6 separate regions of the Homo sapiens genome follow, and regions 2, 3, 4, 5 and 6 are each reported to be linked to region 1. Evidence: microRNA targets listed by miRTarBase, many of them from high-throughput screens and not tested one by one. Region 1 holds a microRNA gene; each other region holds the end of a gene's coding sequence. Distances are from middle to middle.

Region 1 (3,956 bases):
GTATTTTAAGACTTCAAATTCTTTTCTTAGTTGTAAACTTATCTCCTGTCATTTATTTGTGCTTTTGTTGAGAAATTTTATCAGTTGATGTTGTCTTTAGGATTTCAGAGCATAAGTGTGGGGCTCCTGTTCCTTCTTCCCCGTTCGTCTCATGAACGCCTCGGTGTCAGGTGTCACACTGGGCCCTCTGGGATGGTATTCCTTTCATCCCCGTGGAAGAGGTGGCAGGAAGGTGAGGCTGGAGCCCACCAGAAGCAACTGTACATTTTGGTTCACTTAGAGAAAGCTGAGGTTTCTAATCCTCTGGGAGCTGTGCCGAATGATGACAAGAAATGGTCATGTTCAGCATGCCCCTGCTTTAGTAAAGAGTACTTGGCAGGCTCAAGGAGCCATTCCAGGTTCCAGGTCCTCTTAGGAAAACATAACTAAGGCCTGGTCCTTGCCTGCAGAGAGCCATCCTCAAGGTGTGCGCTGGCTGTGGAGCACAGCTGCAGTGAGGAGCAAGGCCGGGTACATGCCTGTCCCGCTGGGTCTTTGTTCCGGTGTCCAGGGTGTCTTTGCATGAGTCGAGGGAAAGGTGCAGATGAAGGGAGAGATGTTTGGACGGTTCCTGCATTTAAAATGCATTTCGGTGCAGCAGCATCGCCGTCAACAGGCTACAGAGGGTGAATGGAGTGCTCAATATGGGATGGCGAGGCAGCCTGCAGTTCTGTAGGATATCTTCCTGTCCCCGTTCCCTACGTGAATGAGGGGGAAAGACATCATTGACTCAGTTTCTCAACCTTTAACATTTCTTAAGTAGAGAGAACTACTAAAACCATGCCCAGAAGGCTCCTGGGAATTCTAAGAAAGCAAAAAGGAAACGGAGTTCCTTGCAGATCTGAGTGGTGCATCTCGTAACAGCCTATTGGAAGTCAAATGCGTGAACTGTCTGTTTTGAAGATTCCGCCTCTTGGTGGAGCTTCTTGGGACACCTTGCACTAAAGTTGGTATTAAACCCTCCTCCTGATTTCTCGAATTGAGAGCATCATTTTATTCCAGGGATGATACTGGTTTGTCATTGTGTTTCGGGTTAATGCCACACGATTTTTCTGATTCAGTAACAGCGATCAGGAATTCCACCTGGATTTCTCCATGAGGCAACGTGGCCAGTTCTCAGCAAATCCCCTGTGACACATCTCTCAGTAAAGATGAACATGAGCGTGTGGGGAAACTGAGGCAGCCCGAAGCTCGGAGAGCCCAGCCCACCACCATGTCACATAGTCTCCTCAAGCCACCTTCATACTCTTTTCTTTTTACCTGAATGCGATTGTTTATTGCATTGGGGGGAACGCTTGGCAGTTCCTTTGCCAGTTCATCAGTTCGGAGGGTTCAGTTTGAGTTTTGTTTAAATGTAGCCGCCATTCCTCATTTGTCCTGAGATGCTCATCCTCAGCTCCTCGGTGTTTTCCTCTCCAGGCACACAGAGGAGTACTTTCTGCCTCGGATGATACAGGACCTGACAAAGCAGGTGAGTCCCTGGGTGTGGAGCCCGTTTTTCAGTCGGTTGTCGCTGTTCTCGGCCAACAGTGGACCAGGTGGGGCGGGAACGCTTTGGGATCCAGGTAATGGAAGGCACCACAGTGCTCACAGGTCTGAAACAGACAAAGGAGGCAGGTTCCTATAGTGAGGGGGGCTGCGTGGCCAGACAGCAGCCAGGGTGGCTCCTCCTTGCCTTGGGGCTGCTTTTCCTCCCTTCCCCCACTCACACTGGCTTCCTCCTCTTCATTTCCTCCTTGTGGCAGAAGACAGCCTTCTCCATCCCCAGGGGCTATGTTCTGACATTTAAGTGTTATCTAGACCAACAGCAAAATGCCCTACTCTCAATTTTGAATTCTAAGGGAAGGCACCCTGGTGTCCCCTCTCAGCCACTGCCTTGTGGCTGGGAGTGGGGGCCTAGCTTCATCAGCACAGGGCAGCAGCTGCTTCAGTGTGATCACAGGACAGGGTCGCTTCAGAAGCTGCTGGCCCCAATTGGCAGCCCCATCGATGTCCGTGACATTCTGCCCCTTGGCTGCTCAGAGTACAGGCGTCCCCTTCTTCCACACATAGGCTCCTAAGGGCGTCTCTGCCTGGCACCACCCGGTGTCCCATGCGCAGCCGCAGGGCACCCACCTCTTCGGAATGTGCGAGAGCCCAGAGCCAACTCCAGCTCTTGTGGCTGCAGGATGTCCGTGGCCCTAGGTAGTGCGTGGCCCAGACAGGGCATGGCTAGTGAATCTCATGCACTCTTCTCTTCCGACTGCAGGAAACCGTACCCTTCGGAGATGCGGTGCTGGTGACATGGGACACCTGCATTGGAAGTGAGATCTGTGAGGAGCTCTGGACACCCCACAGGTCAGCCCCATGCCCCTGTGCTGTCTGATCGCCCACCTCATATGGGCCAGCTGGGAGGACCTGGGACTGCAGACGTCCTGGGGCCGTGGCCGTGGCCGTGGCCGTGGGCTGGGAGCTGCCGTGGGAGAGTGCAAGGGGCTGCCAGGGAGGCTGGTTTGGAGGAGTCTGGTGGCCTGTTCTCTTCACCTGCCTCTGCCTGCAGCCCGCACATCGACATGGGCCTGGATGGCGTGGAGATCATCACCAACGCCTCGGGCAGCCACCAAGTGCTGCGCAAAGCCAACACCAGGGTGGATCTCGTGACTATGGTCACCAGCAAGGTAGGGGCTGGGCCAGGGAGCGTGCGCCACAGGGCAGACACTGTATCTCAAGAACTCCTGCATCCTCAGTGCCCATCGCAGGGCTGGGCCCACACACAATGGATGTTCCAGGCTAGTAATTATGGCCTGGACTCAACAAGTGTGCCCTGCTGCCCTCCAGGGCTTCGCCGGCACAGCCCATCTCACCCACGCAGCCACCCTATGAAGCAACCCTGTCACCCTCTCTGCCATGACCAGGAACCGGAACGTGCTCCTTGTTCGTTGGCATCATGGTGAGGCGTAGGGAACACCCGTACGTTTGCTGCTCCTGCTGTTGGGCAGTGAGACGTGCGAGGGGCAGTGCTGGTTCATCCTTCACGGGGCAGATGTGGGTCTAGCTGAGCCGCGTTTGAGTCTTGGCTTCATCATGCAGAGCTTTCTTTGGCTTGTCTGAACCTCATCATGCCTGAGGGAGGTGATGGGGTCTGCCTTGTAGGGTTGTTGTGAAGGAAAAACAAATGTTTTGTGTAGAGCCTGGCACCTAGCAAGGCGGGGCTCGCCGCAGCTTCACAGGTCTGTGCTTCCCCACACATATGCGTTATCTCTGCGGTGGTGGGACCACTCAGGATGACCTAGCGGGACTCGGCGGAGGTTCCTGTACTTGGGCAGGTGGCAGGTGAGGGTGGTGGACACAGCTGACCACTCCGCTATGGGGTCCTCCTTTTTCAGAACGGTGGGATTTACTTGCTGGCCAACCAGAAGGGTTGTGACGGGGACCGCCTGTACTACGACGGCTGTGCCATGATTGCCATGAACGGAAGCGTCTTTGCTCAAGGATCCCAGTTTTCTCTGGATGACGTGGTAATGAGCGGGCCTGGACATGCCTGGGGGAGGGTTCTCTGTGCAGAGACCGAGCTCCTGGCTCTCCCCTGTAAGCCGGGTGCTTAGTGAGGGCCCCTGTGGAGAAGCCCCCGGGGGTCCCGCCTGCTCCTGGCTCTCCCCTGTAAGCCGGGCGCTTAGTGAGGGCCCCTGTGGAGAAGCCCCCGGGGGTCCCGCCTGCTCCTGGCTCTCCCCTGTAAGCCGGGTGCTTAGTGAGGGCCCCTGTGGAGAAGCCCCCAGGGGTCCCGCCTGCTCTGATGGCCTCAAATTTACCTGGTTGGTGAGGGGGGACCTCCCGCCCTCGGGTCTGGAGACAGCTGAACCCCGACACACAGCACATAGTAGTGGACGGATGAGGTTGAGGGCAGCTTACGAGTCCTGCGTTCCCACAGTGCGGGAGGA
Region 2 (3,956 bases), 24 Mb from region 1:
AACATGTTACTTCTGGATGGTAGGCTGAAAACTAGTCAGTGACATTAGCATCCAGTCGCAAACCCTGCCCAATTTCCAAATAGGCAGCTGATTACACAAGAGAAGCTACAAAGCCACAAGAGGACAAGTGAAAAAACTGCCAATACCTCCCCGGGCGCCCCCCAGCTCCCTCTTGACTTCAGAAAACCCTGCCAACCCAGCTTCTCCTCAGCTAAACAAGGTGGTCACGCCGAGGCCAGAGGTGCATCTGAGACAGGGAGGGCAGCGTATCTTCCCGCTTCTTCTTCCCAAGGTGCTGGCCCCATGCTTCCCTTTCCCTGAGAAAGGAGATGCTCGCCACAGGAAAGTGAAAGAAATGGGTATGGGAGCACGCGACGAAGTCGTCTCGGTAGGTGCCGATGGAAAAAGGTCAGGGGGTTGGGAAAGTGGGCCCTAAAGATTGAATTTAGGGTTCAGAGGAACCTGGTCTGGGGCAGGTGGTGAGGGGGTTTCCTAAGGGTAGGAGCGGGGAAGGAGAGCAGAAACTTCCCAGGAGGGCAGAGCGATGGATGCGACCGCCTTCGCGCCCCGGCCCGTCCCAAGCAGCACGGATGGCTGCGGCAGAGAAGCTCCAGCGAGGCAGGCGGCCACCGCACTTAAGTACAGAGGCCAAGCAGTGTGCGGGCAAGGGGACAAACTCGCTGCACCCGCCCGCCACCGCCTTCTGTGAGGGCCCGGGTAGTCTAGCAACCGAAAGCAGGAAGCGGAGAAAGGGCGGGGCGGTCGGGCGCTTCCGGGGAGCTAGGCCTCGCCCCCAAGGAGGGAGCGGGGACCCCGGGAAGGTCTGCAACATGTATGGCGGGCAGCGGCTTTCTTCCCCTCATACATCACAGCCCCAGCCTCGGAATCGAAACCGCATTGATGAGTACGATGCCAGTAGCCTTCAACATACTTCCAAGCTGGTTTGCTGTTGGCTTTAGATAACTGTTATGCATAATTTGCTCTAAGAGAGCTGCTGCTTCTCTCCTTTCACCTTAACATTCTCTCCACTGCACAGCTAGAAAGGAAAAATTACCTTCTACACTGCAAATCTTAAGAAACAGAGCTAACAAATTCAAATCACACATTTTGATTAGGTTTAAAAAAATCAATTATATGCATAGAAATTTACTCCAGGCCAGGCGCGGTGGCTCTCGCCTGTAATCCCAGAACTTTGGGAGGTCGAGAGTTGGAGACTAGCCTGACCAACATGGAAAAACCCCATCTCTACTAAAAATACAAAATTAGCTGGGTGTGGTGGCGCATGCCTGTAATCCCAGCTACTCGGGAGGCTGAGGCAGGAGAATCACTTGAACCTGGGAGGCGGAGGTTGCGGTGAGCCGAGATCGTGCCATTGCACTCCAGCCTGAGCAACAAGAGCGAAATTCTGTCTCCAGAAAAAAAAAAAACAAAAAACCAACAACAAAAAAATAAATATACTACAATAAAATTCAAACACGTGTCTTTGGTTAACTATATATGAATATAACCGTATCTGTTACTTTTATCAGTGGGGGGAAAAAAGCTATAAAGCACCTTTTTTTCTGAAATGTTAACCATATTACATCATTGCCAGGAATTAAGTAGGTAAAATATTATCTAATATGGCTATTAACCAATCTAGATATTATAGATAATATTAGACCCCAAAACTTTGATCACACAGCACCATCTGGGACTAGAAGCCTGTTTGTCTAAACTGGCCCCACCACTCCCCATTAAAGATCTCCTGCTCATTTTCTTGAAAGCTGTTGTTAAATGTTTGCACCTTGCATTGTATATGCTTAGAAAAAAAAACAAGTCCTGGTTACATAATCAGAATAACAGGAGTTGACGAGCAAAAGGATAACCCATCAGGATTATAAAAAAAGCTTTATTAGTGCATATATACAAATTTACAAGGTCAGAAACTGGAGAAATACAAAGAGCTTTAAAACACAATTTGCCGTTTCCTCAGTTTAAAGTGACTTTTACCTGATTGTGATACAACAGAAAGTACAGAACAGTAAACTGCTTTTTAAATACTGGAATTTTATGGAGAATACATTCACATAAAGAAAGGAGGTGAATTTTGTTTTGGAACAGGGTTAAGACAATGGAGACATTAATACATAGAGTGTCTTGTTGTATTTACTGCCACATACTTGAGGGGAAATTCTCAAAATCAAGGATATGAACACCTGCTGCTGCCTGTATGCCACCTAGTGTGCGAAACGACCGAGCTACCAGTTCTAGAACTTATGAGAACTACTCTAAAGAGTGTGGCCATCTATCAGCACGAGGTAAACCACTTAGACCTCAGCACTTCAGGGGTGGCCGACTAGAGAAAAGAGGCCAGAAAAAGCTTCAGACAATTCCAGTCAAGCAAGGTAGAATGCAGAGCTGCCTTCTGAATTGCACTTGTTCTGGAGGAGAAGTTAATTCTTCACTTTTGTCAGGGAGTCCTCTACAGAAGTGTTATACTCATGAGCCACATGTTCTTCAAGACTGATGAGGTTAATACACCTAACATGCTAAGTTTGCCAGTTTGAGAATAAAGGCAGCATGGTCAAAGCAATTCCAATCACCTCATCCCTTTGCAAAAACAGAAAAATTACATTTCACAAAAGTGAAAACTTTGTATGCATACACTCTTGCCCAGGAAATTTATAAGATCTCCCCCATAACATTTATAGTTTATTTGACAATAAAACTGGTTAAGACTTTGAACTGAACACAAAACAAACAATAATACAAAAAAGTTTTAAAAACTTAAAAACTATGTGTTTGGAGCCATTTTCCTTCTCTTCAGCCTTGCTCTCCAATCCTCAGGAAGGGCTTCAAAATTAGCATTTCTCTCTGCCATGCCACTGTGAAAACAACATACAGATTATTTTAGTGGAAAGAAAAATTAACAAAAGTATTCATTTCCCAGCAAATAAAAATCTAACTGAAATTAAAAACCTGATCTATCACGTCTATGTTTATGAAAATCTTTTGTTTCTCAGCCAAACATCAGTATATTCTTCATCAAACTTCTTCATTCTGATAGGTCAACCAAACACTACCCCAGTTTTACGTATATGTCTAAGTGCATATTTATTTATTTATTATTGACTGATTGAGACGGAATTTTGCTCTTGTTGCCCAGTCTGGAGTGCAATGGTGCGATCTCGGCTCACCGCAACCTCCGCCTCCCAGGTTCAAGCGATTCTCCTGCCTCAGCCTCCCCTCAGAGTAGCTGGGATTACAGGCATGTGCAACCATGCCTGGCTAATTTTTTTTTTTTTTAAGTAGCGACAGGGTTTCTCCATGTTGGTCAGGCTGGTCTCGAACTCCCAACCTCAGGTGATCTGACTGCCTTGGCCTCCCAAAGTGCTGGGATTACAGGTGTGAGCCACCGTGCCCGGCCTTATTTATTTTATATAAATATACCTCCAATAACCATTAAAGGCACACTGAAGAAATGAAACACGTTCTATTAGAGTTTTTCTTAGCCCACAGGAGTTATGATTCTTCAGGGCAGATATATCTAATCCTCAGTCTACCAACAGGGACCCTGGGATCTAATGTTTTTTTTTCTGTTTTTGAGATGGAGTCTTGCTCTGTTGCCCAGACTGGAGTGCAGTGGCACAATCTCGGCTCACTGCAACCTCTGCCTCCTAGGTCCAAGCGATTCTCCTGCCTCAGCCTCCCAAGTGGCTTGGACTACAGGCGCCTGCCACCATGTCCAGCTAATTTTTATATTTTTAGTAAAGACAGGTTTTCACTATGTTGGCCAGGCTGGTCTCGAACTCCTGACCTCGTGATCCACCCACCTCGGCTTCCCAAAGTGCTGGGATTACAGATGTGAGCCCCTGTGCCCGGCCGGATCTAATGTTTTTGAGTTTCTCTTTCAAGTAGTTTTATTTGTAAGGATTAAAATTCAAATTCTATCTTGCAATTAACAGAATGGATGC
Region 3 (3,956 bases), not on the chromosome of region 1:
TACTAAAATAGTTCAAATCAATGTTTTTACCACACTATCAAAAAGTTCTATTTCTTCTTGTCTCCCCACGTCAGAGTGGTTGAATAGAAGGTAGAAACAGGCCGGGAGTCCACGGGCTCCCAGCTCTAAACGGCGCCAGGGCAGGAAGGGGTGGCTCCAGGTCTCACTGTGGCACCTTCTACAGAAAATAGACGTAGCTGCCGGGCCCGGGGACAGAAACCAGACGTTCCAGTCCATCTCCAAAAAGCAGCACAAATACTTTGCCCCACAGTATGAAAAATATACACCTCTACCGCTCTGCAGTCATGCATTTAGTTTTAAGAAAAAAAAAAAATCAGTAGTATGTATCTTGTTTCCTCAAGTTTCAAGAAAAAAAAAATGAAAGGTCACTTTTTTCTCTTTAAACACTGATGTGTAGCTAGTAACTTGGATAAAAAGGTGCCACCCTACAAAATGTGCTCAGCATGTTCTGAGGCCAGGATGGGCTTGGCCACCTGGGCTGGGGCGAAAGGAGACCTCCATCTGTCACAGTGGAAACTGAAGCCGAGTGCCAGTGCCGCGTCCGGCTTCAAGATCAAGAGTCAGAGCCTTTGAAATGGAAAGGGGGCATCTGAAAGGGCACCCCCACTGGGGGCTTTCAGAGCTAAGGCTCCAGAAGGAAGGGGGTCGCCCTGCTAGTGACGGAGCTGGGAGTCACCCTGAGCTACAGCATGCCCAGATTTCCCCTGTGGGAAGCCCCATCTGACCTTCTACAGCCCACGGCTCTGCAACTGCCACCTGTACTCAGGTACATGGCGTCGCTGCTGCTGGCTTTTAAAATCAGCTATTAGTTTGAGATGTGACAGTCGCCGACAGGGTTCTGTCCTAGAAAGCCATCCCAGTGCCGTGTTGGCTCAGGGGTCACCAGCTTTGTGCTGCCTCCGTAACAGCAGGAGGGTTCTCAAAGCAATGTTCCACTGATCCCTGGATGCCACTGCAGCATTAAAGACAGGGTCAGTCCCCTTGAGGGGAAAGGTGGCTTCAAGGCTGTTCTCTGGGCCTGTTTGCAGGAGATCCGCAGGTACCAGGAGCCCGTACTTATTGCTTATTTCAGTGGTGGCCACGCCAACCTGACCCAAACATGATGCACACGGGCTCCCAGACTTGGCTGCCACTCAAAATGGACCCACAGCCCTTGGGCTACTCTGCGGTTCTTTGGACTGCAAGACCCAGAGGGGCCTCTGCTCAGCTGCCCACTCGGGCAAGAATCACTGGGTACCATGAGCAGCAGGTGTTCACCCAACTTCACGTGTACACCCCTAGTGACCGGGAGCGCACCACCTGACCGGGCGACACTCCTTCCCAAAGAGCCTCCTGGCAACACCCACGGCAGGAGCGCCACACCATCCCATCACCAGCACCCACTTACCCCCCTGGGGCTAAGATGGGGGGCGTGAGCCTTTCCCCTGAGAGCAAACGGGCAGCAAGAACTGCTCAGAATAGAGCCGCCAGCTAGGGAGAGGGACAGGGCGGCCATCTCCCTCCTCTTGCCTGCATCCCCAGCCCTGGGCCTGCATGAGACCTGCTGGGTAGGAAGACAGCCTCTCTGGGCTCTTCAGGTGGGGCTGAGCAGCCCCTGGAAGAGCACAGGAGTCTGACGAGGACCTGGTGAGGTCCTGGACCCAAGAGCTAGGGCTGCTTACAGTGGCATGAGCGGATGTGGGGAAGCGGCCTGTCCCCGTGCTGCAGCTGTGGGATCAAAATCCCTGTCATGTGCCACACATCACCCCCTCTAGGCCTTACTTTCCTCACACACACAGTTTTCTATTGCACTTTACAGTTTATACATGGTCATTTACACTGAAGATCTCACTTGATGCCAGAATCCTGTGAGGAGGGCCTTATGCTGCCCATTTTACTACTGAGGACACGGGCTCAGAGTGGGGAGGCAACTCTCCACCCGCAGCGACTGCAAGGCAGCAGAACTCAGCTCCACCCGGCCCGCCCTCAGCCGTCGGCTGTTGGCTCACGCCCCCTCAGTGAGGACCCCTGCCCTGTGGCGCTGGATGACCTGGAGCCATAAGCATGGCCGAAAAGGAACCTCAGAGACCTGTTTCCACCAAGAGCCCAGACAGGCTGAGTGAACTGCTAAAGGTCACACCACAAACTAAAGGCAGAACCTGGCCAGACACGCTCCTTCCCAAAAAGAACAGAACTCTCATCTGCAGCCTACACAGCTCTGTCCACAGGGACCCAAGATGCAGCCAGGCCCTGGGGGAGGTCACAGCCAACCAGAGCCCCAGCTGTGGCCCAGTGCTGCCCATCAGGAAAATCACATGTGGCTCAGCCCAGAAACTCTCCCCAGGCCCTTCCTGTTACTGGCCTGTCATGTAAACCACGAAAAGGGACGTGCCTCAGGCATGGGGCAGGAGGAGCCCAAGAAGGGCATAGCCTGGACAGGGTGGCAGGGGGACATTGCAGAGACTGGGGGGGAGGGGGATGACCTCCAAAAGCAAGGAGCAGCGGGCATCGGGTGGCTGAGCACAGATCCCCAGGTGTGAGGGCACCCTGACCTCCAAGGCTGAGGGTCACAGGAAGGGCCCAGGGCAGCCTCCAGCCAGCCACAGATGTGGTGAGTGGCCTTGTCCACATGCCGGGGACCCAGTGCTTGGGGGGCCTGGGGCCAGGCCACGGCATTTGGGCAAGAAGTGGTGCCACCTGCGTCAAGACCCAGGTAGTGGTGGTCTCTGTCCAGTGTGGGTGGCAGCCGGGGAGTAGAGGGTTTGATGAGTGGCCCCTCCATCCCAGGCAGGACAGAGGAGCCTGGACAGTTCCCAGGCTGGATCTCAGAAGCAGCCTGCAGCCTCTTGCTCATGGAGCCCAGGGCCCAGAGGGGGAATGAGGCGTCCGGGCCGCTCTGCTGCAGGAACAGTCGCAGCGTCTCGTCTTCCCAGGTTGCTGGTGTATGAGGCGGGAGATGGCGGCTTGGGCCAGTGCATCGGACCCATGGCAGCTGGGCCAGGGCGGGCAGCGTCCTATGTACAGTTCACCACAGAGGAAGAAGACAGGGGCTGGGCTGGAGGTCCTGCCCGTGTCTGGGGCCTGAAACTCCCCCTGGGGACCCCCAGCAGGGCCAGTCCACGTCCACAGAAGAGTGGCCCTACAAAGGCCCCTTGAACTGGTTCCCAGACAGGTGCTGCCGTATGGAGGGCTTGGAGCTGGCTGCATCTCCCAGCTTTCTCCAGACCACCTGTGGAGAGGAGAGAGATGTGAGTGGTGGGACTCACCCGCGTCCACCTGCCGCCTATGCACATCCGCCGCCTCATCACGGCAGAATCACCCACGTCCTCAGAGCCATGGGGCCAGGAGGGACACGGAGGCCACTGCAGGCCCAGAGACACCCACACCAGGTCTTTGCATGCCGCGCTAACTATCGGGCCTGAGCAGGTCACTGCTGGGGTGTGGCTCAGCCTTGCAGCTGTCCAGTGGGGTCCACAGGCCCCACTAGGTGATGCGGGGGAGGGGCTGCACAGTTCAGAGCCTCTCGCCCCCCCTTTAAGTCCTGGGTTCAGACCCTATGAAACTCCTTCCCCGATGGCTCCTGCAAGCACCCCCAAGGAGACCGCCGATGGTGCTCAGCTGGGTCGAGCACGGAGCTCTCCTGGGCAGCCCCAGCCTGGTGGGCTGGAGGGTTCCACCTGGACCTCCTGCTCTGAGCACCATCTGCCCAGCCAGCAGCCACAGGGGGCACCAGCAAGCTGAGAGGCCCGGGGGCCAGCACCCAGGGAACACCTGGGGTGAACAAACCAGTCCCGGGGGGGTGGGGGGCTCAAGCTCTATCCAGAACCCCAGGCACGGCACTCCTGGGGAGGGCGGATCTGCAGACACCAGGGGCCCTCTGGGAAGGGCAGGGGGCAGCGAGATGACAACGGGCCAGGGCTCCTAGCACCTCTGAGGCCTCCCCCCAGCTATCCAAG
Region 4 (3,956 bases), not on the chromosome of region 1:
GTGGTGAAAGCCAGGAAGGACAAGTTCCTGCCCAGAACGTGCTAAAACCAAGCTTCCCCCACACTCACTCCTCTCCTGCCTCCCACAGACATGATCAGCCAGCGTTCAGCGGGTGGCCGCCCTGGCTCTGGCCCACAACTGGGCACTGGCCGAGGGACCCTGCGGCTCCGATCCCGGGGCCCCGCCACGGTGGAGGATCTGGTGAGTGCTCCAGCCGGACCCTATCTCCGGCATCCCTTCCCTTTCTTTTTTTTTTTTTTGAGACAGAGTCTCACTCTTGTCACCCAGGCTGGAGTGCAGTGGTGCAATCTCGGCTCACTGCAACCTCTGCCTCCCAGGTTCAAGCGATACTCCTGCCTCAGCCTCCCAAGTAGCTGGGATTACAGGTGCCCACCACCATGCCCAGCTGATTTTTGTATTTTTAGTAGAGATGGGGTTTCACCATGTTGGCCAGGCCAGGAGTTGGTCTCGAACTCCTGACATCAGGTGATCCAGCCTCCTTGGCCTCCCAAAGTGCTGGGATTATAGGCATGAGCCACCGCGCCCAGCCCTCCCTTCCTTTTCATAACCGGCAGCATTACCTGTTAGCTGAGGGGACTCTGGGCAGACAGCCTGGATTCTAGTCCACTTCTGCCACTTCCCAGCTCCCAGGGACCTTCCTTGGGCACATGGGCCGCAGTTTGCCCATCAGTAAAATGGGGATGAGCTGAACACCGATACCACCTTCTCAGGGTTGTCCTGAGGTCTAAATACGAATATATGTAAAGTGGTGACAATGGCAGTCCGTCCAATTACTATGTATATTCACATTGTTATGATGTCGCTGTCACCCCTCCCTGGCCCCCAGCCCTCTGCCTTTGAAGAGAAGGCCATTGAGAAGGTGGATGACCTGCTGGAGAGTTACATGGGTATCAGGGACACGGAGCTGGGTGAGTGAGGGCTGCCTGGGGGAGGGGGCATCTAGGTCTGCTGGGGGCCGAATCCACCCTGAGCCCCTTGGTCCCTGGTGTCATTTGTGCCTCCGTTCTGACCCCTCCCCCAATAGCGGCCACCATGGTGGAGCTGGGAAAGGACAAAAGGAACCCGGATGAGCTGGCCGAGGCCCTGGACGAACGGCTGGGTGACTTTGCCTTCCCTGACGAGTTCGTCTTTGACGTCTGGGGCGCCATTGGGGACGCCAAGGTCGGCCGCTACTAGGACTGCCCCCGGACCCTGCGATGATGACCCGGGCGCAACCTGGTGGGGGCCCCCAGCAGGGACACTGACGTCAGGACCCGAGCCTCCAGCCTGAGCCTAGCTCAGCAGCCCAAGGACGATGGTGAGGGGAGGTGGGGCCAGGCCCCCTGCCCCGCTCCAATCGGTACCATCCCCTCCCTGGTTCCCAGTCTGGCCGGGGTCCCCGGCCCCCCTGTGCCCTGTTCCCCACCTACCTCAGCTGGGTCAGGCACAGGGAGGGGAGGGATCAGCCAAATTGGGCGGCCACCCCCGCCTCCACCACTTTCCACCATCAGCTGCCAAACTGGTCCCTCTGTCTCCCTGGGGCCTTGGGTTCTGTTTGGGGGTCATGACCTTCCTAGTTTCCTGACGCAGGGAATACAGGGGAGAGGGTTGTCCTTCCCCCCAGCAAATGCAATAATGCCCTCACCCCTCCTGAGAGGAGCCCCCTCCCTGTGGAGCCTGTTACCTCCGCATTTGACACGAGTCTGCTGTGAACCCCGCAACCTCCTCCCCACCTCCCATCTCTCCTTCCAGGCCCATCCCTGGCCCAGAGCAGGAGGGAGGGAGGGACGATGGCGGTGGGTTTTTGTATCTGAATTTGCTGTCTTGAACATAAAGAATCTATCTGCTGTTGGACCTGTGTGGCTTCGGGGTGGGAGAGGGGGAAGATTGGGGCTGAGAAAGAATTCAGCAGCTGAAATCCATCTTCCGCAGGCTCCAAATTGAATTAGGAGCTGGCACCAAGCCACCTGCCCCCTCCCACTGTTCCTTCTGGCTGCAGGCCACCAGGCTTCCAGGCAGGGCCAGAGCTTCCTGGACTACTGAGGGTTCAAATCCTGCCCCCTCTCCCACAAGGCCTCCTACCCCCTGGAGCTTCACAAGGCTGCTGTCTGCAGCTGGTGACAACCCCCGGACCGTGGGGAGCACCAGGGCATTGAAACCTGGCTTGGAAATAGAAAGATGGAACCTCAGGCCTGCCAGAGCCCCACCCCTACACCGGGAGGTTGGGGGCAGGCGTGAGGCAGCCCCCACCCCACCCGGCCCAATGCTGGACACGCAGGCGTCCATGGGGCACCCTGCTTTGTCCTAGACATAAACCCAGCATACTTGTTTTGACAACCCACTCATCTTCGAGGATTGAGGGTGATCAGGGAAAGGCGGGGTGGGACCCTGGCCAGACCTGGAGGGAAGGGAAGGGATTGAAGCAAGGGGCGCTGGGCCAGAAGGCCCCACAGGAATGCTTGGGGGTGAGCCGAGAGGCTGTGGGGAAGTCCGAGGCCAGCTTGCAATCCTCGTTCCAAAAGGCGGGCGGGCACTGGGCCACCAGGAAGAGGGGAAGGGGGAAAAGGGGAAGACCCTGGGGGCTGGGTGTTGGTGGACAGACCCGGGTGGAGTCGGGGAGCCGCAGTCCTGGTGACTCAGGGCATCCCCGGGCACCTGTGGGCTCCTCAGGTGTCTGTGCTGGGAGCCGCTTGCGGTGGTGAAGGGGTGTGGCTATGTGTGTCTCGGGTGTTGGGTAGCACTGTGAGTCTATCAAGAGTGTTGATGGCTCGTGACGCAATGAGGGAGGGCTGTGTCGTGGGTAAGGGATGTGATAACCGGCTCTGTGTTCCAGGGCAATTGCAGGTGTAACTGGCAGTGTCTGGTGGTGGGGAGTGCAACGGAGTGACTGTGTCTTGGGGTGTCCCGGGGTGTGGGGGTGTGTGTCTTAGGGTGCTGTTTCTGGGGCAAGGAGGGGTGCTTGGCTAGGCCTTGGGGTGTTCAGGGGTGTCAGGGTATGTCTCGGGGTGTTGCTGTTTCCTGGGTGGGGGTGCTGGCTAGGTCTAGGGGTCTCTAGGGGTGCAGGTGTGTGTGTCTCAGGGCGTTGCTGTTTCTGGGTGAGGGTGGGGGTGGCCAGCTAGGTCTCTGGTGTCCAGCGGCGGGGGGTGTCACTTCTTGTGCCTTGGGTGTACGGAGTGTGCTGGTGGGGCCTGTCTGGGATTGTTGAGGGGTCATTGAAAGTCAAACAGAGTGTGGTCAGGGGCAGTTTTGGCAATAAGGAGTGTGTGTGCGTGTGTGTATCTCTCGGGGTGCCAAGTGAGACCCTATTTCCCAGCACTAAGGAGGGTGGTTCGGGTGATCATCTCAGAGGGCTGCATTTTGGGGTGTTGGGAGGGGCTGGAATTGAGGCAGTAACTCTGGGTGCGTCCCGGCGCTGGGGGTAAGACCCTGAGTTCAGGGATGTGGCGGCAGCAACCTGGCTGTGCTGAGATGGGGACAGGATGAAACTGAGTGGTAAGTGACAGGATTGTATGTCTTAGGGTGTGAGGCTGTGCCAGTGTGACCCTACTTCTCAGGGCAGGAGGCGAGTCTTTGTGTCTTAGGACGTGTGTCACAGGTGTCACTCAGCCCATCTTAAAGGAGCCAGTCACTGGGGAGAGTCCCCAGGTCGCCAGGCCTCCTGGTTCCCCTGCCCCCTTTCAGCCTCCTCCCAGGATATGACTCGCTGTGGCCCTAGCCGGGGCTTAAGCCCCTGTATAAATAGGCGGATCCCCTGGCCAGGCTGGGCCTGACCCAAGCTGGTCTACCCGAGGCCCTGCCCACCAGCACCCACCCCGACATCCACGAAGGCTTTGGCAGGGCAGGGGGGGCATTGCTGGCCCCACAGAATTGGAGTTAGCCTCTCTAGCTCCAAAGCCCCAGGGAGGGGGGCAGTGGCACCCCCTGCAGCTGCCCCAGCCCGCCCCAGACGACGCTCA
Region 5 (3,000 bases), not on the chromosome of region 1:
GGAAAAACCGTGAATTTACTTGAAAGGCAAAGGCCGCATGAGCTGGCTGCATGAGCTGCAGTCCGTGGACATGGATTACAAGCACTTGTGGGTCTGTGGCTCTGCTGGGACAAAAGCCTTCCTCCCTGGGCTGGGGAAGGGAGGACCAGGGCCATGCCTGCTTTCCTCCTGCACAGATGGCACCCTCTGGCGGTCCCCCCCAGCAGCAGCCCCCCGTGGCCCAGCAACCGCAGGCACAGGGGCCGCCGGCACAGGGCAGCGAGGCCCAGCTCATTTCATTCGACTGACCCAGGCCATGCTCACGTCCGGAGTAACACTACATACAGTTCACCTGAAACGCCTCGTCTCTAACTGCCGTCGTCCTGCCTCCCTGTCCTCTACTGCCGGTAGTGTCCCTTCTCTGCGAGTGAGGGGGGGCCTTCACCCCAAGCCCACCTCCCTTGTCCTCAGCCTACTGCAGTCCCTGAGTTAGTCTCTGCTTTCTTTCCCCAGGGCTGGGCCATGGGGAGGGAAGGACTTTCTCCCAGGGGAAGCCCCCAGCCCTGTGGGTCATGGTCTGTGAGAGGTGGCAGGAATGGGGACCCTCACCCCCCAAGCAGCCTGTGCCCTCTGGCCGCACTGTGAGCTGGCTGTGGTGTCTGGGTGTGGCCTGGGGCTCCCTCTGCAGGGGCCTCTCTCGGCAGCCACAGCCAAGGGTGGAGGCTTCAGGTCTCCAGCTTCTCTGCTTCTCAGCTGCCATCTCCAGTGCCCCAGAATGGTACAGCGATAATAAAATGTATTTCAGAAAGCATCAGCGTTTTTTCTTTAATTAATTTTTTTGAGATGGAGTCTCACTCTGTCACCCAGGCTGGAGTGGTGATCTCCGCTCACTGCAAGCTCCGCCTCCTGGGTTCAAGCGATTCTCGGGCCTCAGCCTCCCGAGTAGCTGGACTACAGGTGCACCCCATTACCATGCCTGGCTAGTTTTTGTATTTTTAGTAGCGACGGTGTTTCACCATGTTGGCCAGGCTGGTCGTGAACGCCTAACCTCAGGTGATCCACCTGCCTCGGGCTCCTAAAGTGCTGGGATTACAGGCATGAGCCACCGCGCCCGACCTGCATCAACGTTTGCTCAGGGGGCAGGTGGTCAGGCTGATGGCCCAGCTGCAGGCAGGGTCATTTCCAGCCTGCCCCTCCCTGAGGCTGCGTGCCAGGGTTCATGTGTGCCCTCCGCGGCTCTGCACTGACCCCGCCGGTAGCTGGGGAGGAGTTTGGGCTTGGCGCCTCCTTCGTGTAGTGGCTGAAGCTTCCCGGGTGCTCCTCATTCCTGGGAAGGGAGTCGGGTGATGGGAACGGTGGGAGCTCAGCGCTCCGAGTCTGCGGCCGGGGGCCAGCGGGGCTGAAACGCGCCTCCTGAGTGTTGAAAGCGGCAGGCGCCGGCCTTTGCACCCAGAGGCCAGGGCGTCTCACTCACCTTCACATCCAGGCCTCTTAGGGGAGCGCGGCTTTGGCTTTTCCAGGAAGGAATGGACTCCAACGGACAGGGAAAGAAGAAGTGTGGAGAGACGGGCAGGATAAGCAGGCACTGGGCCCAAGCCGCCCTTGGAGGCTCTGCCTGTTCTGATCTGAAGGCGGAGGCTCAGCCGTGCTCTCCCAGGAAGCCACCTGGGCGTTTGGGGCTTTAGCTAGGAAAGAGGATGTCGCCTGCGGCTGCGAAGGCGCCAAAGCCCAGACCTCGCGCCTCCGCCCGCGACGGCGGCACTGGGGGCCCGGAGCGGGCGGGAGACGTGGATTACTGCGGGCTTCGGGGCCCTAGCCTCGACCGCGACGTTCGCTCGCATCGCGTACGGACAGAAACCCGTGAGCGCTGAAGAAAGAACACCTGAATCCGGAGCCCCAGCCCCCGTCGCTCGTTTGCGCGACCCCAAAACCTGGCGGGACGAGGGTCGCCCGATGTCTAGCTGCCGCCACAGACGACGCTTTTGCGTCTGCGCAGCGCGCCGCCTTGTGGGTAATCTCAGGGTGAGACGAGGCTAGCGCGAGGTACGGCTAGAGCGTCATTTCCGGCTCGAATGCCCGGCAGCCGTGGCGGCTAGAGCGTTCCTCCCCAGCTCGAATGCCCGGCGGCCGAGGCGGCTAGAGCGTCGCCTCCTCCCGGGGAACCGCGTGTGACCTTCCAGCCCGCGGACCGATGCTGCCGGCGGCCGCTCGCCCCCTGTGGGGGCCTTGCCTTGGGCTTCGGGCCGCTGCGTTCCGCCTTGCCAGGTACGCGGGATCCTGGGGCGGTCCGGGCCGGCAGGCGGGTTAGGGGGCAGCCGGGCACTGAGGGGTCGATCCGGGCGAGGAGGGCGGCGGGGCCGGCCTCCCTGCAGCGGCCAGGCCGGGCTTGGGGGTCCCATCGGGGGCGCGGGGAGGAGGCCTCCCGGTGCGCACGCCCCTTCCCTCCTGGGCCGTGGAAAGCGCCGGGGTCGGCCCCAGATGACCTTGGACGATTCCCTGCTCCTCCCTTGGCCTCAGCCTTTTCCGCAGCAAAGGCCCATCCGTGGGTGCGGCGTTTTGCGGCCAGGGGCCCCCATGTTTTGGGAGGCTTTGCGCAGGAAGATGCACCTAAGTAATAGTTTCGCCACCGCTGGGTTGATGTAGTTCATTCAAACCAGAAACTTGAGGTTTGAGTGGTATGGCTGCAAATAAACACGTGGCTTTCTAAGGCTCTTTGAAGAATTTAAAGTAACTTGCAAATCTTATCAATACGGACCCCTTGAGGTCTGAGAACCCTGGACTGGGACCAAGGAGCTAGGTAATTTCCGGCCCTAGTGATTACCAGCCTGAGCTTATGGCACCCACCAGTCCCCCAGTTGTCCTGCCCCTCTGGTTTCTGCAGCCCCTTCCATTCCAGGACTGACAAGTCTGTTTTAATTGGGGGTGGGGGCTAGGCGACAGGTGCCATGTGTCTGTGCCGTGCGACATATGAGGAGCAGCGGCCATCAGAGGTGTGAGGCCCTCGCTGGTGCACCCCTGGAT
Region 6 (3,956 bases), not on the chromosome of region 1:
ACTCTTCCTTGCACCCTCTACACTGAATTCCAAGCAGTAAATACCTGTGATAAGGCCATTATAGCATATTAATAAGTGCTCAGGACCCATAGTGAGCTCCCTTCTGCTGCCTGCTTAGAATGAAGAAAGGTCCCAGTTAATATTTGATTTAATGCTGTCAGTGCATTCTGTGATTTTGACCGATATTAAAGTGCAGCAATCCTGACTGATTTCTTAGTTTCTGACAGTCTATGTTATCTTTTTCTCTGATTATGATGGCTAATCCCATAATCAGACTGTCGGGTAAGTGGGGACATCCCCTCTTACAGATGAGGAATTTGAAACTCAAACAGGACAAGGAACTTTCCCAGGATAGTACTACTAATAAATGTTGAAGCTGCAGTTTGATGCTGTGAAGGTCTGATCTTTCAGTCTAGGTGCTTTCTACTCTGCAGCTTCCACTCTGGGTGCCCTCTAAAGGAGTGCCTTTGGGGTGATGACGTTCCACTCATCTTTGTGTCTTTTCTTTCCTAGGGATGCTGTGAAGAAGTGTTTTGCCGTGTGTCTTGCATAATTCATGGCCAGTTTTATGAAGCTTTGGAAGGCACTATGGACAGAAGCTGGTGGACAGTTTTGTAACTATCTTCGAAACCTCTGTCTTACAGACATGTGCCTTTTATCTTGCAGCAATGTGTTGCTTGTGATTCGAACATTTGAGGGTTACTTTTGGAAGCAACAATACATTCTCGAACCTGAATGTCAGTAGCACAGGATGAGAAGTGGGTTCTGTATCTTGTGGAGTGGAATCTTCCTCATGTACCTGTTTCCTCTCTGGATGTTGTCCCACTGAATTCCCATGAATACAAACCTATTCAGCAACAGCACATAAGCCTTGGGTGCAAGTGATTCCCAGGTGGCAAAAGGCAGCCCCATCAGAGATCACGGGAGCAACAGTAAGGGACAGAGTTTTGGGGTCCACTTGTCCCTCAGCATGGAAGCCATCACCGTGGTCCTGCATAGAGTGAGTCTGCTTCTACTCTGGCATCTGAGAACAAGTGACTCTGCTTTAGACAAGCCCCTGGAGAGCCTGGCCATGGAGTGAGGTAGAAAAGAAGCACTTTTTGGTGGTATATGCTGTTTCTGAATTTGAATCTAAGCATTCTTGGTGTTCTGATTCTGCGCCTGACTGTGGAATGTATTTTCTGACATTAGGTGCAGACTCTTTTTCTCTTGGGTTTTATTTCCCATCCCTCCCTCCCTCTCCCTGCATATCTTTCTTTATGACCTCCTGGCACTAGATGGGGAAAGAACAGAGCAGCAGCAGAAAATGCTGCTGTTTTTTTTTTGGACGAGAGCCCATAGGAGTTGAAAAATCCTGCTGCTCTCAGCTATATTTTTTTCTCCATTATTTATAAATGTTTGCTTTTAAACTGATTTTATTTTCCATTCTCCCCTGGAGTTGGGCCAGGGGAGAGTGGGGTGGGAAGACAGATCCCTGCTGTGCAGCCAGCAGGAAGTAGGCACGCCTGCCCAGTGACCTTTAAATAGTCCCAGTGTTTGCACTTAGCCTGTGCTGGGGACACTGGGGATAAACTGCAGGTGGTCTCATGTCAGCCTGATGCCTAACCTACAAAGTGCTTTTGTGTCCACGATCTTACCTGGTTCTTATGGAGAGCCTTGTGAGGAAGCAGGGATTGTTATACCACTGTGCAGTCAAGGGAATCAAGGCCCACACTGGTTTTTGGATCCACCCAAAGCCACAGCTTCAGCCTCCTTCATGACCCCAGAGTTTCCTGGCCTGTTTCTGGTTGTGCCTCCTGTAACTGCCTGTGACTGTTTCCCTCGTTTTCATCAGCCAAGCCATCTCCTCCCTGGCCCTCCCTGCCCATCTCTTTTGGAAGCTTCTTCCTGGATCTGCAGGATGTTCACTGTCCCTTGTGTTCCCTTTCAGCTCCTCCTTGTTGCCTGACTACGATTAGTGCCCTGTCTTGTCAGCCAGCATTCCTGGCCCTCCAGGACCTCCAGAGTCATCCTACAAATGACGTTTATCTGGATTGCCTTTCTGTTCTTTGCACAGGGCCAACTGGTCCACTAGGGCTCCTCCTCTGTCACTGCTAAACCAAAGGAAGTGGCCTGCTGGTTGTCCCCTTTCTTGTGGCTAATTGCTGAACCTTTCTTTGTCCTACTGTGGCTAAGAACTCTGACTGGTTTTTTTTTTTTTTTCTTTTTGAGATGGAGTCTCACTCCGTCGCCCAGGCTGGAGTGCAGTGGCGTGATCTCTGCTCACTGCAACCTCCACCTCCCGGGTTCAAGCAATTCTCCTGCCTCAGCCTTCCAAGTAGCTGGGATTACAGGTGCCCGCCACCACGCCCGTGCTAATTTTTGTGTTTTTAGTGGAGACAGGGTTTCACCATGTTGGCCAAGCTGGTCTGGAACTCCTGACCTCAGGTAATCCGCCCACCTTGACCTCCCAAAGTGCTGGGATTACAGGTGTGAGCCACTGTGCCCTGCTGATCTTTTCTTCTGAGGCTGGGGAGGTGTGAACAAGCCTGACGGGGCCAGAGAGAGGAGCTAGTCTTCCCAGGTTCTTTCTAGGCTATTGATGACATCCAGTCATCTGCTCAGGTCACTAACCTGTCCTCAGCCAGGAAAGGAAATTTTATGCTACCCCTCTGGCTTTTGTGGGATTCTTTCACATCCCAGGTGCCTCTTGGAGACAGATCTCAGAAGGGCTGTGGTGTCAGAAGGGACATGGAGGAGGTCAGGAGGGCTCATGGTTCCTTTTCTTTAGAACTGATACGAGGCTTGGCTAGTCACTGTGAGCTCCAGCAGCTCCAGCAGCCTGGAATAAGACACCTAGAAGGCTCATCCCTCCATGTCCATGTCCTTTTTTTTTTTTTAGATTGAACAACCATGCTTTGTTTAAAAAATAATCTCAGCAAACTAGGGATACAAGAGAATTTCCTCAACCTGTCGAAGGGCATCTTTAAAATATCTACTGCTAACATCCTATGTAATGATGAAAGGCTGAATGTTTTCCCCTAAGATTGAGAATAAGACAGAGATGTCAACTCTTACCACTTCTATTCAACGTTGTACTGAAAATTCTAGCCACTGCAATCATGTTTTAATTGGGAGTAGGGGGAAAGAGGGAGGGAAGGAGAAAAATGAAAGGCCTTTAGATTGAAAAGAAATGAGTAAAACTGTCTATTCACAGATATTATCATCTATGTAGAAAACCAAATCAAATCCATTACTAAGTTACTGAAACCAGCAAGTGAGTTTCGCAACACAGCAGGATATATAATTGATATACACAAATCAATTGTGTTTCTCCATGTTAGAAGTAAAGAATTAGGAATTGAAAATTTAAAAATAATACCATTTACAATAGCATTAAAATATAAAATTCTTGGGAATAAACCCGACAAACTATGTGGATTATCTGTACACTGATAACTAAAAAGCATTGCTAAGAAAAATTAAGACCTAAGTAAATATCTTGTTGATAGGTTGAGAGACTCAACATTGTTGATGTTAATTCTTTCCCATATTAATCTATAGATATAATGCAGTCCCCATCCAAAGCCAAGCAGGCTTTTTTTTTTTTTTTTTTGTAGAAATTAAAAACTGGTTTTAAGATTCACATGGCATGCAGATGATCTAGAAGATCCACAGTAACTCTCCTGCTGTGCAGCTGGTTCCTAACAGGTCATGGACCTGTCCATGGCCTGTAGGTTGGGAACCTCTGCTACAGAGGATCCAGATTTAAATTCAGAAGAAGCTTCATCTATTTCTGTAGTTTCATTTTCTTGCAATAACTGCTGCATCAAACTTGAACTTCGCAGGATTTTCTGAAGCTGCTCAATTTGGCCATCTTGCTTTTTAATTGTATTTCTTAACACTAGAATTTTCTATTTCAAGTTTTTGTACGTGGCCTTGCGTCTCCTTAGTACATTTTATAGTCGCTGTAAGTT

What was found. Region 1 holds the annotated microRNA hsa-miR-6754-5p (CCAGGGAGGCUGGUUUGGAGGA, at 2,518-2,539, shown strand). A microRNA usually pairs through its seed, bases 2 to 8, with sites in the 3' UTR of a target mRNA and lowers its output. Matches are read on the target gene's strand: a 7mer-m8 pairs with bases 2 to 8, a 7mer-A1 pairs with bases 2 to 7 and ends in A, and an 8mer does both.
Region 2: miRTarBase lists FNBP4 as a target of hsa-miR-6754-5p. Seed matches in the 3' UTR shown: 8mer at 2,453-2,460.
Region 3: miRTarBase lists CCDC85C as a target of hsa-miR-6754-5p. The part of its 3' UTR that is shown has no 7-base or 8-base seed match.
Region 4: the mRNA of GIPC1 is a reported target of hsa-miR-6754-5p. Seed matches in the 3' UTR shown: 7mer-m8 at 1,371-1,377, 7mer-m8 at 1,533-1,539 and 7mer-m8 at 1,665-1,671.
Region 5: the mRNA of HGS is a reported target of hsa-miR-6754-5p. Seed matches in the 3' UTR shown: 7mer-m8 at 367-373 and 7mer-A1 at 461-467.
Region 6: miRTarBase lists SFT2D2 as a target of hsa-miR-6754-5p. Seed matches in the 3' UTR shown: 7mer-m8 at 1,240-1,246, 7mer-m8 at 1,847-1,853 and 7mer-m8 at 1,857-1,863.

What each region holds. Positions count from the first base shown.
Region 1 is chr11:71,470,991-71,474,946 of GRCh38, forward strand. MIR6754 (microRNA 6754) reads left to right here and starts at 2,513; the gene lies at 2,513-2,578. It overlaps NADSYN1 (NAD synthetase 1), which reads left to right. Exons shown (of 21, transcript NM_018161.5): 6 at 1,459-1,510; 7 at 2,288-2,376; 8 at 2,579-2,696; 9 at 3,405-3,536. RefSeq lists enhancers at 1,337-2,244, 2,245-3,151.
Region 2 is chr11:47,714,646-47,718,601 of GRCh38, forward strand. FNBP4 (formin binding protein 4) reads right to left here. Exons shown (of 17, transcript NM_015308.5): 17 at 1,849-2,867. The coding sequence ends at 2,777. AGBL2 (AGBL carboxypeptidase 2) reads right to left here and starts at 724. Exons shown (of 19, transcript NM_024783.4): 1 at 530-724; 2 at 1-105. The coding sequence starts at 5. RefSeq lists an enhancer at 402-461.
Region 3 is chr14:99,512,107-99,516,062 of GRCh38, forward strand. It overlaps CCDC85C (coiled-coil domain containing 85C), which reads right to left. Exons shown (of 6, transcript NM_001144995.2): 6 at 1-3,229. The coding sequence ends at 3,140. It overlaps CCNK (cyclin K), which reads left to right. Exons shown (of 11, transcript NM_001099402.2): 11 at 1-334. Among named protein-coding and RNA genes, the nearest start is that of CCNK, 33 kb to the left of the region's middle. RefSeq lists enhancers at 1-199, 200-1,200.
Region 4 is chr19:14,475,657-14,479,612 of GRCh38, reverse strand. It overlaps GIPC1 (GIPC PDZ domain containing family member 1), which reads left to right. Exons shown (of 9, transcript NM_005716.4): 7 at 89-201; 8 at 848-929; 9 at 1,046-1,851. The coding sequence ends at 1,197. Among named protein-coding and RNA genes, the nearest start is that of PTGER1, 2.3 kb to the right of the region's middle. RefSeq lists enhancers at 751-1,266, 3,606-3,956 and a silencer at 2,707-3,189.
Region 5 is chr17:81,701,332-81,704,331 of GRCh38, forward strand. It overlaps HGS (hepatocyte growth factor-regulated tyrosine kinase substrate), which reads left to right. Exons shown (of 22, transcript NM_004712.5): 22 at 177-790. The coding sequence ends at 287. MRPL12 (mitochondrial ribosomal protein L12) reads left to right here and starts at 2,036. Exons shown (of 5, transcript NM_002949.4): 1 at 2,036-2,244; 2 at 2,913-3,000. The coding sequence starts at 2,171. RefSeq lists enhancers at 1-311, 916-1,519, 1,464-1,533, 1,520-2,123 and a silencer at 2,024-2,403.
Region 6 is chr1:168,241,988-168,245,943 of GRCh38, forward strand. SFT2D2 (SFT2 domain containing 2) reads left to right here. Exons shown (of 8, transcript NM_199344.3): 8 at 514-3,956. The coding sequence ends at 553. It also overlaps the pseudogene ANKRD36BP1. Among named protein-coding and RNA genes, the nearest start is that of SFT2D2, 18 kb to the left of the region's middle.